Homo sapiens: one gene and its partners. The protein of the gene in region 2 purifies or fractionates together with the protein of the main gene of each other region. This does not show direct contact. Each region holds a gene or a part of one and is shown on either strand. Other genes may lie near its edges. The genes, in order: GTF2IRD1, AKNAD1 and AMY1C.

Region 1 (3,650 bases), on a different chromosome or scaffold from region 2:
CAAGGGAGGCCAGGTCTCCTCTTCCTGCAGGAAAGACATGGCTGAGCAATCAGCCTTCACTTAGTCATTCAACAAACATTCTCCAAGCACCTGCTGTTGCTGGGCTCTGAACTGTAGGCTGGAGACAGCTAGAAAGGGCAGACACAGCCCCTGACTCTGGAGAGCTCTTGGGCTGGAGAGGGGACAGGGCACTGTGGGTGCCAAGAGAGGGGCCTAAACCCACTGTGAGGGGGCTTCCAGGAGCAGAGCCTCAGTGCCACGCAGGTGTCTGCCAGACACAGGAGGGGAAAGGCAGTCTCAAAAGATGTAACAGCGCGAAGTCCAGGGCATGTGAAATGCACCAGCGAGTGCTGGAGAACTGGAAGTGGTTCTGTAGAGAGGTCAGTAGGGCCCTGTCACCTAGTGGGAGAAGAAGGTGTGGAGGGGATGAGGATGGGTGTGTGGGCCCCTGTGCCATGCTCAGGGTGATGGGGAGCCCCCGAAGGCTGTGGAGAGAAGAGCTTCATTAATGATCAGACTTGTGCTTTGAGAAGATACCCTTGGTTGCAGGGCAGGTGTAGAGAGCTGGTCTGGAAGCAGGGAGACCGTGGCAAGCCTGGGGCTATTTCTAGGCGAGAGGTGGCAGTGACTTGAGCCAGGGCAGGGACAGTAGGGGTGGAGGTTTGGAAAACGGCTGGAGCAGAACTTCTGTGTCTGGGAATGCAGAGATGAGGAAGGGCTGGGGTAGCCAGTAGCCCCATGCCTTGGGGTCCGGCTTTGCCCAGGGCCCATAGTGGGACAGGAGGGGGCCCCCTCTGCTGGGTGGGGACCGAGGCTCCCACCCTCCCTGGGGCCCCCAAATGGAATGAGGAAGGATCTTACTATAAAGAACATCAAACACCTCCTCTACCATCTTCCGCAGAAGGTACACATCTGAGCCATGTTCCAGGGAGGACCGAGGGAGGCTACGGCCTCCACCCTCGCCCCGCTGCACCTTCTTGGGGTGCTCTGCCTCCGGATCCTTCCACGGGGGCCCTCCTGTGGGACACAGAGCACGCGAGGCCACAGTGAGCACCCGTCTCACCACCCGGCCTTCGAGCTGGGATGTCGCTGCCCTGTGCTGAGCTGCGGAGACTGGCACACAATGTGATACACAAGTGAATGAATGAATGAAGAATTAATGAGTGAGCAAGCCCTATTCCAACCACCCCACTGAGGGCCAGGGCTGGTCATCTCAGAGTTCCCAGGGCTGGGCCTCACCTCTGGTCACCTCTAATTTGCTGTGTGACCTTGGGTTAGTCCCTTCTCTCTCTGAGCCTCAGTCTGTGAATGTTCACGGGAGGCCAGCTATTCCAGCTCAGAACTGAGGTTCGATGAATGTTCCATCTGTGTCTTTCTATTTTTTTTTTTTTTTTTTTTTTTGAGACAGAGTCTCGCTCTGTTGCCCAGGCTGGAGTGCAGTGGCACAAGCTTGGCTCACTACAACCTCCACCTCCAGGGTTCAAGTGATTCTCCTGCCTCAGCCTCCCGAGTAGCTGGGATTATAGGCGCCTGCCACCTTACCCAGCTAATTTTTGTATTTTTAGTAGAGATGGGGTCTCACCATGTTGGCCAGGCTGGTCTCGAACTCCTGACCAAAGTGCTGGGATTACAGGTGTGAGCTACCATGCCCGGCCCCATCCATGCCTTTCTGTGCTCTGACACGAACACTGTCTTGACCAATCTATGCCACCGTTTTCTGCTCTGCCGGAGGGAGAGAAAACCCTCCGGCAGAGGGTTGGGAGGCACCCCCCAACCCCTGCTCCAAGGAGGCCGTGGGTTGCAAACAGCAGGTTCATGCCAGGCTGGGCCAGGGTGGGGACCGGAGAGTGTTGGTGGATCCTTGGGGAATGTTCTAGAAGCTGCATTGGAAAGGAGATGAGAGGAGGGGCCTGCGGCCCCCTCCCAGCTTGGAGCCTATTCTCCTCTGGGATCTGCGGAGCTTGAAATAAACCAGCCGAGTTCCTGGTGCTATAAATAGCGGCTCTGCGTGGCTCTAGAAGGCAGGTGCACCGCCTCAGGCTCTGGGCGGCTGGGGTGCCACACGACCTGCTGCTGTCCATTCTACCCGGCCCAGTCCCCCATCCTGGCCCTGGAGAAGGTCTAGGCTCTGAGGGCTGAGGGGGGTGGGGGGCTGGCTGGGGATGCGGCTGCACCCCAGTAATGCTAGGCCCAGCGCTGGGGGATGCCCTTCCCTGAAACAGCTGATCTTAGGGGTGTGAGGTGAATACTAATAATAGTAACAACAGCTGGTGTCTATTGAGTGTGAACCAAGTGCCAGACACTGCCCTAAGTGCTTGCAAGGTACCAATTCGTTTAACCCTCAGACCCACCCGTCCTCCCCTTTCACAGATGAGTGGGTTGAGGCACAGCAGTTGTGGACCCAGGCGGCCCGTTCTCTTAACCTCATGCTATACCATGGTTCTTTTGAGATGGGGACTCACTGTCACCCAGGCTGGAGTGCAGGGGTGCCATCGTAGCTCACTGTAGTCTTGAACTCCCAGGCTCAAGTGATCCTCCTGCCTCAGCCTCTCAAGCAGCTGGGACTACAGGTGTACACCATCAAGCCTGGTTAATTTTTAAATTTTTTGTAGAGACAGAGGCCTTGCTATGTTGCCCAGCCTGGTCTCCAACTCCTGGGCTCAAGTGATCCTCCCATTTCAGCCTCCCGAAGTGCTAGGACTACAGACATGAGCCACTGCACCTGGCCTAAGATGTTAACCCTGACTATAGCCATGACAGTGCCTGCCCCCTCAGGTTGATGTCAGGGTAGGTGAGTTAGCATCAGAAAAGATGCTATGTACAGCAGGCATTCAATAAATCTTATTGGAACATGGCCAGGCATGGCGGCTCACATCTGTAATCCCAGCACTTTGGGAGGCTGAGGTGGGCGGGTCACCTGAGGTCAGGAGTTCGAGACCAGCCTGGCCAACAAGGTGAAACCCCGTCTCTACTAAAAATACAAAATTAGTTGGGCGTGGTGGTAGGTGCCTGTAATCCCAGCTGCTCGGGAAGCTGAGGCAGGAGAATCACTTGAACCTGGGAGGCAGAGGTTGCAGTGAGCCAAAATTGTGCCACTGCACTCCAGCCTGGGTGACAGGGCAAGACTCTGTCTCATTTAAAGAAAAAAAAAATTGTGTTGGCATAAGTGCATTTGGTCCTTGTGTTCAGGAATACATAGTTAAGAGGAAGAACTGAGCAGCAGCCTTGGCCTTGGTGTCCCCATCTGGAAAAGGCAGATGGAAGTGGCTGGCTCTGGCCTACCCTGGGGTTCACCCAGCCAGTCTCTATCAACTCAGGGGCTGCCTCAATAACACCACATCGGGAATCTCAGACAACCTAGCTTGTTAGGTTCACTCCCCACACACCGCCACCCTGGCTAGACAGGGTTGGGGACCCAGAGATGGGCTAGAGCGCCTGCCCTCGGGAAATGGCGGGCCCGGCCCTCCGGAGCCCTGGGGTACTCACGGCAGAACCTGAGGAAGTCTGACTGTAGCTCCTTCCGGGCATTCAGGAACATTCTCCCCTTCTCTGTGCCCACCACAAAGGCGCTCTCATCGTGCACGGCGACACAGGCCACCTCGGCGTTCAGTTTGGACAGCGCTGAGCACTGTGGGAAGGGCAGGCTGTGT
Region 2 (4,407 bases):
CTAGACAGCCTCACTGAATGGTATATGGTTACAGTTGAGGCACTGCATTGTGGGTACCCCACATTTCTGAGATAAAGTTAGCTGATAGAATTACCAGAGCATAATCAAATGCAGTCATTACAGAGGGAGCCTATATCATGTTACCTTTGAAAATATTTTAATCTAGAAACATCATACACTGTATACAAAATTCATGAATCCCTGACGCCTGGGCGTGGCCTTGGACATATTATTCTGAGCCATCTCCTATTTTCTTTCATATGTAAATGTTATTCTTGAGCTAGGAATAGGAGAGAAAGAGAAAATTGAAACAGCCAGACCAAGTGTTTTTGAATGCTCTTAAAAGACAAAAAAAAAAAAAAAGACAAAAGTTTGTATCACATCAGAAGTTCCCTACGTGCTCTTCAAAGCTGATTGCTTGCAGTTAAAAGAACCCAGAAGAAGCAGGCACGCCATGATTTTGAAGCTCCGTTTTTGTTCTGTTATTCAACTGCAGTCAACTTCCAACTGTTGAAAAAAAGATGATTTAGAATTAAAGGGTTGCTTGTCTGTGTCGCAAGGCCCTTCAACTTGTTCACCTGTGATATCCAGAGACTCCAAGATGTTGGTGAGTTTCTATTGCAATTGCCATATTGCCATGGTTTTGCCCTTTGTGTTGACTGTAGCATTGTGCTGTTTGAAGACAGAGCAGCATACTGCTTTGTGTAGTAAAAATTGATGGATAATGTACTTAAAGCTTTTAGATGTACACTATTCACATTCTAAATGACAGATACAAAAAGGAATAATCAGAATTTAGATTGTTGAATCATTGCCTCCAACAGCCAACTCTTACCGTGACAAAGTCAGTAGGGCTGATCTTAGAAGTGTAGGACTTGTGAGTGTTACGTGGTTGTACTAACTGGTACCTTAGTGGAGGGGCAGATAAGGTAAGTAGAAACAATGCCTGCTTTCTCCTCCATGTCTGGGTCCTACACATAGTCCCCAGTTTGCCTGGTTTGTAGAGGTTTAAACACAGAACAGAGGGTGTTGGGAATGAGACAAAGAGATTGTCACAGGAACATGGACCCACGGTTTTCCTTTGGTGATGAAAACAATCCTGTCAATATGGAAAACTGTGTTATCACAAAATGGGCTTAGCGAATAGAAGAAATGTCACCTACCAGCCGGAAACAACAATTCGCTGACCATCTTTGGCCTCTTGCCACTAAGGAGTTTTGGTTTTCCCATCTGTAGAAATTCTTAATTGAGTCCATCAGATTCCCAGTCATCCTAGCCATGGTTACCTTCTTCTCTAAGTTGGCAGGTTAGTGAGCTTAGGCTAGCACTTCAGCATCAAATTTAGACTTCATAATAAAGTAAATCACACAGGGAATAGCTGTCAGCATGGTGACCACCTTGTTGTCCATTCCTACTCAGGGACTGGCCTGAAGTGTTTTCACAGCCTGGGTCACTGTGATGTCCTGGCCCTGTTTGCTCAAAGTGTTCATCTCAGAGTGACTTGTGAGGTATTGCTGAGCACATAATGGTCAAGATAGCTGCATAAGCAGGCGTGGCCCCAAATGTAGTCACCTGACTTCAGAAAATCAATTTGGATTCTACAGAAAGGTTCTGTTGGATTCTGAGTGGAACCTCTTTGGATATGCCTTTGGATTTCAAGATTGAGCCAAGTGTTGACATGGGAAGATGCTCCAGTTCCTCCAGTTATCTCAAAGAAGCTCATTACCTTGCTAAGGGTATGGATTGTCCTTTTCCAGAAAAAATCCTCTTGATATTTTGCATGCACACATGCAAAAAATAATAACAACAGAAGCTGTTTTCCTGTATGTAATGAGAGTGTTCCTCAGGTTTCTGGTTTATCTTAATGGTATCTCACTCCTTTTCTTTTCCTTTCTTTCTTTCTTTGTCTGTGTGTGTGTTTGTGTGTGTGTGTTTATGTGTGTGTGAGAGAGAGAGAGAGAGACAGGGTCTTGCTCTGTCACCCAGGCTGGAGTGCAGTGGCATGATCTCTGCTCACTGCAGCCTTGACCTCCTGGGCTCAACTGATCCTCCATCTCAGCCTCCCAAGTTGCTGGGACTACAGGCATATACCACCACTGCTGGCTAATTTTTAATTTTTTTTTTCTTTGTAGAGACAGGGTCTTGCTTTGTTGCCCAAGCTGTTCTCAAACTCCTGTCCTCAAGGAATCCTTCTGTTTTGGCATCCCAAAGTGCTGAGATTACAGGCATGAGCCACTGTGCCTGGACTTTTTTTCTTTTTCTTGAGAGCCAGAGCAAAATTCAAATTTTATCAGTTTTAATTAATTATATTTTAAAAGTGGGAATTTGGCCAACAAAGTATCTTTCCTTTCTATACAAGAAGGGTATGGCGTTTGGCAATGAGCTCCTGAAAATGTAAAGAAAGCATGAGGATAACTTTGGGACTGATACTTGGGTCATTAAAAGTCTTGCAAAACTAGAATTTGTTTTCTTCTTCTTCCATTCTCTCTGTAGGCATTTAAACATACTCTCAGGCCAGGCACAGTGGCTCATGTCTGTAATCCCAGCACTTTGGGAGGCTGAGGCAGGTGGATTACTTGTGCTCAGGAGTTCGAGACCGTCCTGAATAACATGGTGAAACTCCATCTCTAAAAAAAAAATTAAAAATTAGTCAGGTGTGGTGGTGTGCGCCTGTAGTCCCAGCTACTCAGGAGGCTAAGGGAGGAAGATCAGTTGAGCCATGGTGTTGTCACTACACTCCAGCCTGGGTGATAGAGTGAGACCTTGTCTAAAAAAAAAAAAAAAAAGATACTCTGTTTTTTTTTGTTCTAAAAAATTAGACAATATTTTGTTTAAACTTGCTTAGTGATTTATTTATTTATTTATTATTTTTTATTTTTTTGAGACAGAGTCTTGCTGTTGCTCAGGCTGGAGTACAGCGGCATGATCTCGGCTCACTGCAACCTCTGCCTCCCGGGTTCAAGTGATTCTCCTGCCTCAGCCTCCCAAGTAGCTGGGACTATAGGGATGCACCACCATGCCCAACTAATTTTTGTATTTTTAGTAGAAATGGGTTTTGCCACATTGGCCAGGCTGGTCTTGAACTACTGAGCTCAAGTGATCCACCTGCCTCAGCCTCCCAAAGTGCTGGGATTACAGGCATGAGCCACCTCATCCAGCCTGATTTTTTTTTTTACCTTCAAATATATTTATTTACAGATTGAGTTTTAAAATTGTCTTAAAGTTCTTGTAGAGATTATGTCTTTTTTGTTTTGAGACGGAGTTTCACTCTATCGCCAGGCTGGAGTGCAGTGGCGCGATCTTGGCTCACTGCAACCTCTGCCTCCCGGGTTCAAGTGATTCTCCTGCCTCAGCCTCCTGACTAGCTGGGACTACAGGTGTGCGCCACCACGCCCAGCTAATTTTTTGTATTTTTAGTAGAGACGGGGTTTCACCATGTTGGCCAGGATGGCCTCCATCTCTTGACCTCGTGATCCACCTGCCTCGGCCGCCCAAAGTGCTGGGATTACAGGCATGAGCCACCTTGCTTGGACGAGATTATGTTTTACATATGCAATTCCTTCCTTTATCCTTTAAATATCCCCACGGATAAGGAGTGCCTCACCTCTGGACCTGGGCATTCTTCAGTATTCCAATACTGAGACTGGTTTTGTTTTTTCATTTTTCAACAACAATGTATGGAATTCTTACTCTGTGCCAAGCCCTATGCCGAGTACTTTAGTGCCTTATTTCAGGTATTGCTAGTCCTATTTCTCAGAAAAGGCAACCGAGACTCACAAGAGTTAAATAACTTGCCAGATGACACACAGCTAGAAAGCAGAGAAGCCAGAGTATTCAGATCCATGCCTCTCCACTTCTGCTTTCCCACTGTGCCTTTCACTTTCTTGGGAAGCCTTTTCCCTTGTTCTTCAACTTGGATTAGAATAGCCTGTAATTCTTCTCATGAAGACATGCCTCACTTTATACTAAATGTTACCCTCTTTAAATGATTTAAAATAATCCTGCAGTGATATTCTCCTTTCTCTCCACCTCTCTAAACAGAGCATCTGTTTAATTTGGGTTCTCTAACATTGGCATGTGTCTATAAATTAAGATTTTTGTACAATGTCTCACAGATGCTTTTACCACATTTAGTTTGTACTCCTTTTTTTCTTGGACGACTTAGTTCAAAAAAATTTATTTTGGTCAAACATATGATTTTAGCTTTTGAGGTTACCTAATAAATCACCAGCTTATAGACTCATAAAAATTTGGTTGGAGAGAGAACCTCAGAGATCTGCTCACCCAACATAATCATTGTATGGGCAAGGGAGGCTGCCAGCAGCTGTGGTCACCCTGGGCTGGTGCTCCAGGGGAGAGGGAATCTCAGTTACTCTACTTAAAACTTGAGATTACTACTTCTGAGGA
Region 3 (3,298 bases), 5.1 Mb from region 2:
ATTAAAGTTAAAAATTGCTAAGATTGACCATAAAAATATGTAAATAAGACAACTAAAAATAAATTTACATGCAAGGTGTGTAGGAACACTTAAATGTGTTTGTGGTAAAAGATTATAAAAAGGCATAAAAATGTAAATGTTGCCTATGGAAAAAGGATTCTTTTGAAACCTATGTAAGGGTAAAATTTGGCTTTCCTTCCCTTGTACAGATTTTTCATGTAATAGAGAAGAATAATGAAATATTTGGTTTGCCTTGTTGGTAGAATGCCAAGGAGAGAAAAGAGTAGACAGGAGACAAACTGTTTGGAAAGCTAAGTCTTACCTCTTAATGAGTAAAGATTGTTGCCTAGTTTTAAAATTTTTGAGTCATCCTTTTGCCAAAATAAATAACTTATGTGTAACCTGGAATTGTATTTCATACTATCAAGTGTCTTAAACCTCTTTTTACTAATTAGAGCTTTTATTTAAAATTAATGATATGTAACTATTACTGTATATGTAAGAAAAGAAACACACTTAGCTATTGCTTTGCGGATTTGCATTTAATTTTAAATTTTACAATTTAGATTCAGCATGAATTGCAATAAATGGATCTTCAGCAGAGTTACTAATAGAAAAATGAGCTTTGCCATCATCAGAAACGTAGATTTTAATGCCTGTGCAGTTGCCATTAATTTTATCTCCAGAAATGACATCACAGTATGTGCCAGCAGGAAGACCAGTTTGCAAAGTTAAAGAAAATGTCCTGTAAAATAAAATTTCAGATTTAACTTCAAAACAATGAAATCAAGAATACAGACTAACACAAATAAACAGCATAACTTTATGTTTTAGAACCCTAAGCAGTGAAGTCTCATTAAGAAGAAAACCCATATGCCTCCCTAGTAGGTGTAAACAGCTTTCTAGGACCAAAAGTAACCTTACAGAAAACCTACCAATTTCCTTTTCAGTAGTGAAAATATAACCGAAAAATCAAAGTTGAAGAATATCACCGAAGATTGGCGGGAGCGGTCACATTTTGATAAAGTGCTACCTTGGTAAAATCAAATTTTTTCTCAACTGAACTTAATGCCAATTACTTTAAAAATTTAAAGGGTATTATTTTTTTAACCTTCTTTTATTCTACATGAGGTCAAAAAGAATTTAGGGTGTACATAAAAACAATCTAGCATTTGTATGAGGAAGTGATAGTTTGAAATATAAAGCTTTTTCACAAAAGATTTTTTTGGTATTTTCATCCACAAAAGAAGGAAACTAAGGAAATAGACACGCATTTTTTTGGCAGGAAAGAGATCAACTTGACTTATATATTTTTGTATTTATTTATTTTTCATAAGTGAAGTATAATTTATACTAGAGTGAGCTAAGTATGAGTGTCAGTTGGCCTTGGACAGAGACAATTCAACTGTTTGCAAGGAGGTCTTCTCAGCTACAGTTTCGGGAATCATTTATACTACAGCCAAAGGATACAAAAATCACAGATGAAAGGCCAATAATGAGAAGTTTCAGAACTAAAACTCAAGTCTCCTGAAGCAAATCATTAACCACAAGATACATATTATTTATCCATATGCTTTAAAAATGTTATTTGTCACAAGGAGACAGAGAAGTGAAGAAAGTATACCAAAAAACTAGGTAGAGCTGTCATTGAGAAAAAGAGAAATAAAGATATTTTAGTACTGAGGCAGCATTTTTCCATGATTAAAAGAGCAGGACTATAAGAAACGTTCTTTTAATGATTTCACAATCCTTCTATTAATTACTTTGTGTATTTTGTGGCATGTGTAGGTAAGCATATGAATGTGCATTCTATATATGCATAAGATATTGCAAGGGTGCACAGAAAGGATTCTGCTTACAACAGAAAGCCCTTATGAAAACAGGAGAACGAAGGAGTAACAGCCATCATCCTTTTGCTTCTACCCAATTTTGATCTCTATTGTCTTCTCGCTCCACTGACTACATGATTTTTCAGATATGATAAATGTCAATGAACAGAAAAAAAAAAGAATAAACCAAGAACATACTGGTACAAAATATTATTTTTAATTGATATTTACTTACCAGTCATCATTGTTGAAAACAATGAATCCTCTGTTTCCTCTCCCAAAAGCCACTTGGTTGCTCCCATTATCATACCAGTTTGTAAAAGGCTGGCCATCCACTACATTGCGGAAATTAACCATGTTCCTAAAAACACAATACCATATAAAACGTTGATATTCTTAAACTTCAACTGTTTTAAATAAAGTGCTACGGAAATTTACTATTAGAGGACATGTCTAAATACATATTCTCACCTTATTTGGCGCCATCGATGTTCACAGACCCAGTCATTGCCACAAGTAGTGTCTGGATTAATAGTAACTTCTTTAGTTACTCCATTATCATTTGGTGGCCCAACCCAATCATTAACATCCTTAATTACAGGAGGAAAAGCCAAATTTTAGCATATATATATTTATCTCTTCCTTCTCCTTTAAACCAAACCCAACCTATCCTGTTACTTGTGTCTCTGCATTCAGTGACTTTATCTAGAATCCAATGCCTTCATTGATTTTTATAGCCCTTTACTGGGTCTTCATCATCTCTCTATCCTCTGGTTCTCTTTTGCCATATTTCAAACAAAGGTAGCAAATTGTTATCCTCTCCTTTTCATTCCAAGGCACTGCAAAGACTTCTTTGCTCTGTCACCCAGGCTGGAGTACAGTGGCATGATCGTAGCTCACTGCAGCCTTGATCTCCGAGGCTCAAGCGAACCTCCCATCTCAGCCTCCCAAGTAGCTAAGACTGTTGGTGTGCACCACCGCACCCAGCTAATTTTTTTTTTTTTTTTAATTTTCAGTAGAGGCAAGGTCTTGCTAGCTTGCCCAGATAGGTCTTGAACTCCTCAGGTCAGCTGACCTTCTCAGCTGGCCGCACACAGTGCTGGGATTATAGGTGTGAGCCACTGCACCTGGCCTGCAAGGGCTTCTTAACATCACTGTAAGCCATGCAATGGCATTGAAATGGGAAGGGCATTAGTACTAGAAACACCAGGATTAAAACATAGGCTCTATTACTAGTAGCTGAGAAAATTTAATCAATATAAATAATTTCTCTGTGTCTCAGTTTCCTCATTTGTAAAATGAGAATAATGAGTTCTTTTGCTATAAAAATTAAGTAATATATGTGAAAATGCCTTGAACATGACATATGCTAAATAAATATTGGAGGCCGTCATGCTTCTTTTTAGATAAATGTACAAAATACTACATCTGAACATTTTTTTTTATAAATTGACCATATTTTTAGTATT

The links.
Region 1: the proteins of AKNAD1 (region 2) and GTF2IRD1 purify together in Homo sapiens (affinity purification with mass spectrometry; one large-scale study listed by BioGRID and IntAct). This does not show direct contact.
Region 3: the proteins of AKNAD1 (region 2) and AMY1C purify together in Homo sapiens (affinity purification with mass spectrometry, with the first as the bait; one large-scale study listed by BioGRID). This does not show direct contact.

What each region holds. Positions count from the first base shown.
Region 1 is NC_000007.14:74,512,808-74,516,457, reverse strand, and holds part of GTF2IRD1 (general transcription factor II-I repeat domain-containing protein 1), read right to left. Parts: intron 3,629-3,650; coding exon 3,487-3,628; intron 1,114-3,486; coding exon of another isoform or gene 1,018-1,113; coding exon 862-1,017; intron 1-861. UniProt on the Homo sapiens protein: May be a transcription regulator involved in cell-cycle progression and skeletal muscle differentiation. May repress GTF2I transcriptional functions, by preventing its nuclear residency, or by inhibiting its transcriptional activation.
Region 2 is NC_000001.11:108,854,258-108,858,664, reverse strand, and holds the start of AKNAD1 (protein AKNAD1), read left to right. Parts: upstream 1-1,570; 5' UTR 1,571-1,736; intron 1,737-4,407.
Region 3 is NC_000001.11:103,755,916-103,759,213, reverse strand, and holds the end of AMY1C (alpha-amylase 1C precursor), read right to left. Parts: intron 2,420-3,298; coding exon 2,301-2,419; intron 2,191-2,300; coding exon 2,065-2,190; intron 746-2,064; coding exon 556-745; 3' UTR 522-555; downstream 1-521. UniProt on the Homo sapiens protein: Calcium-binding enzyme that initiates starch digestion in the oral cavity.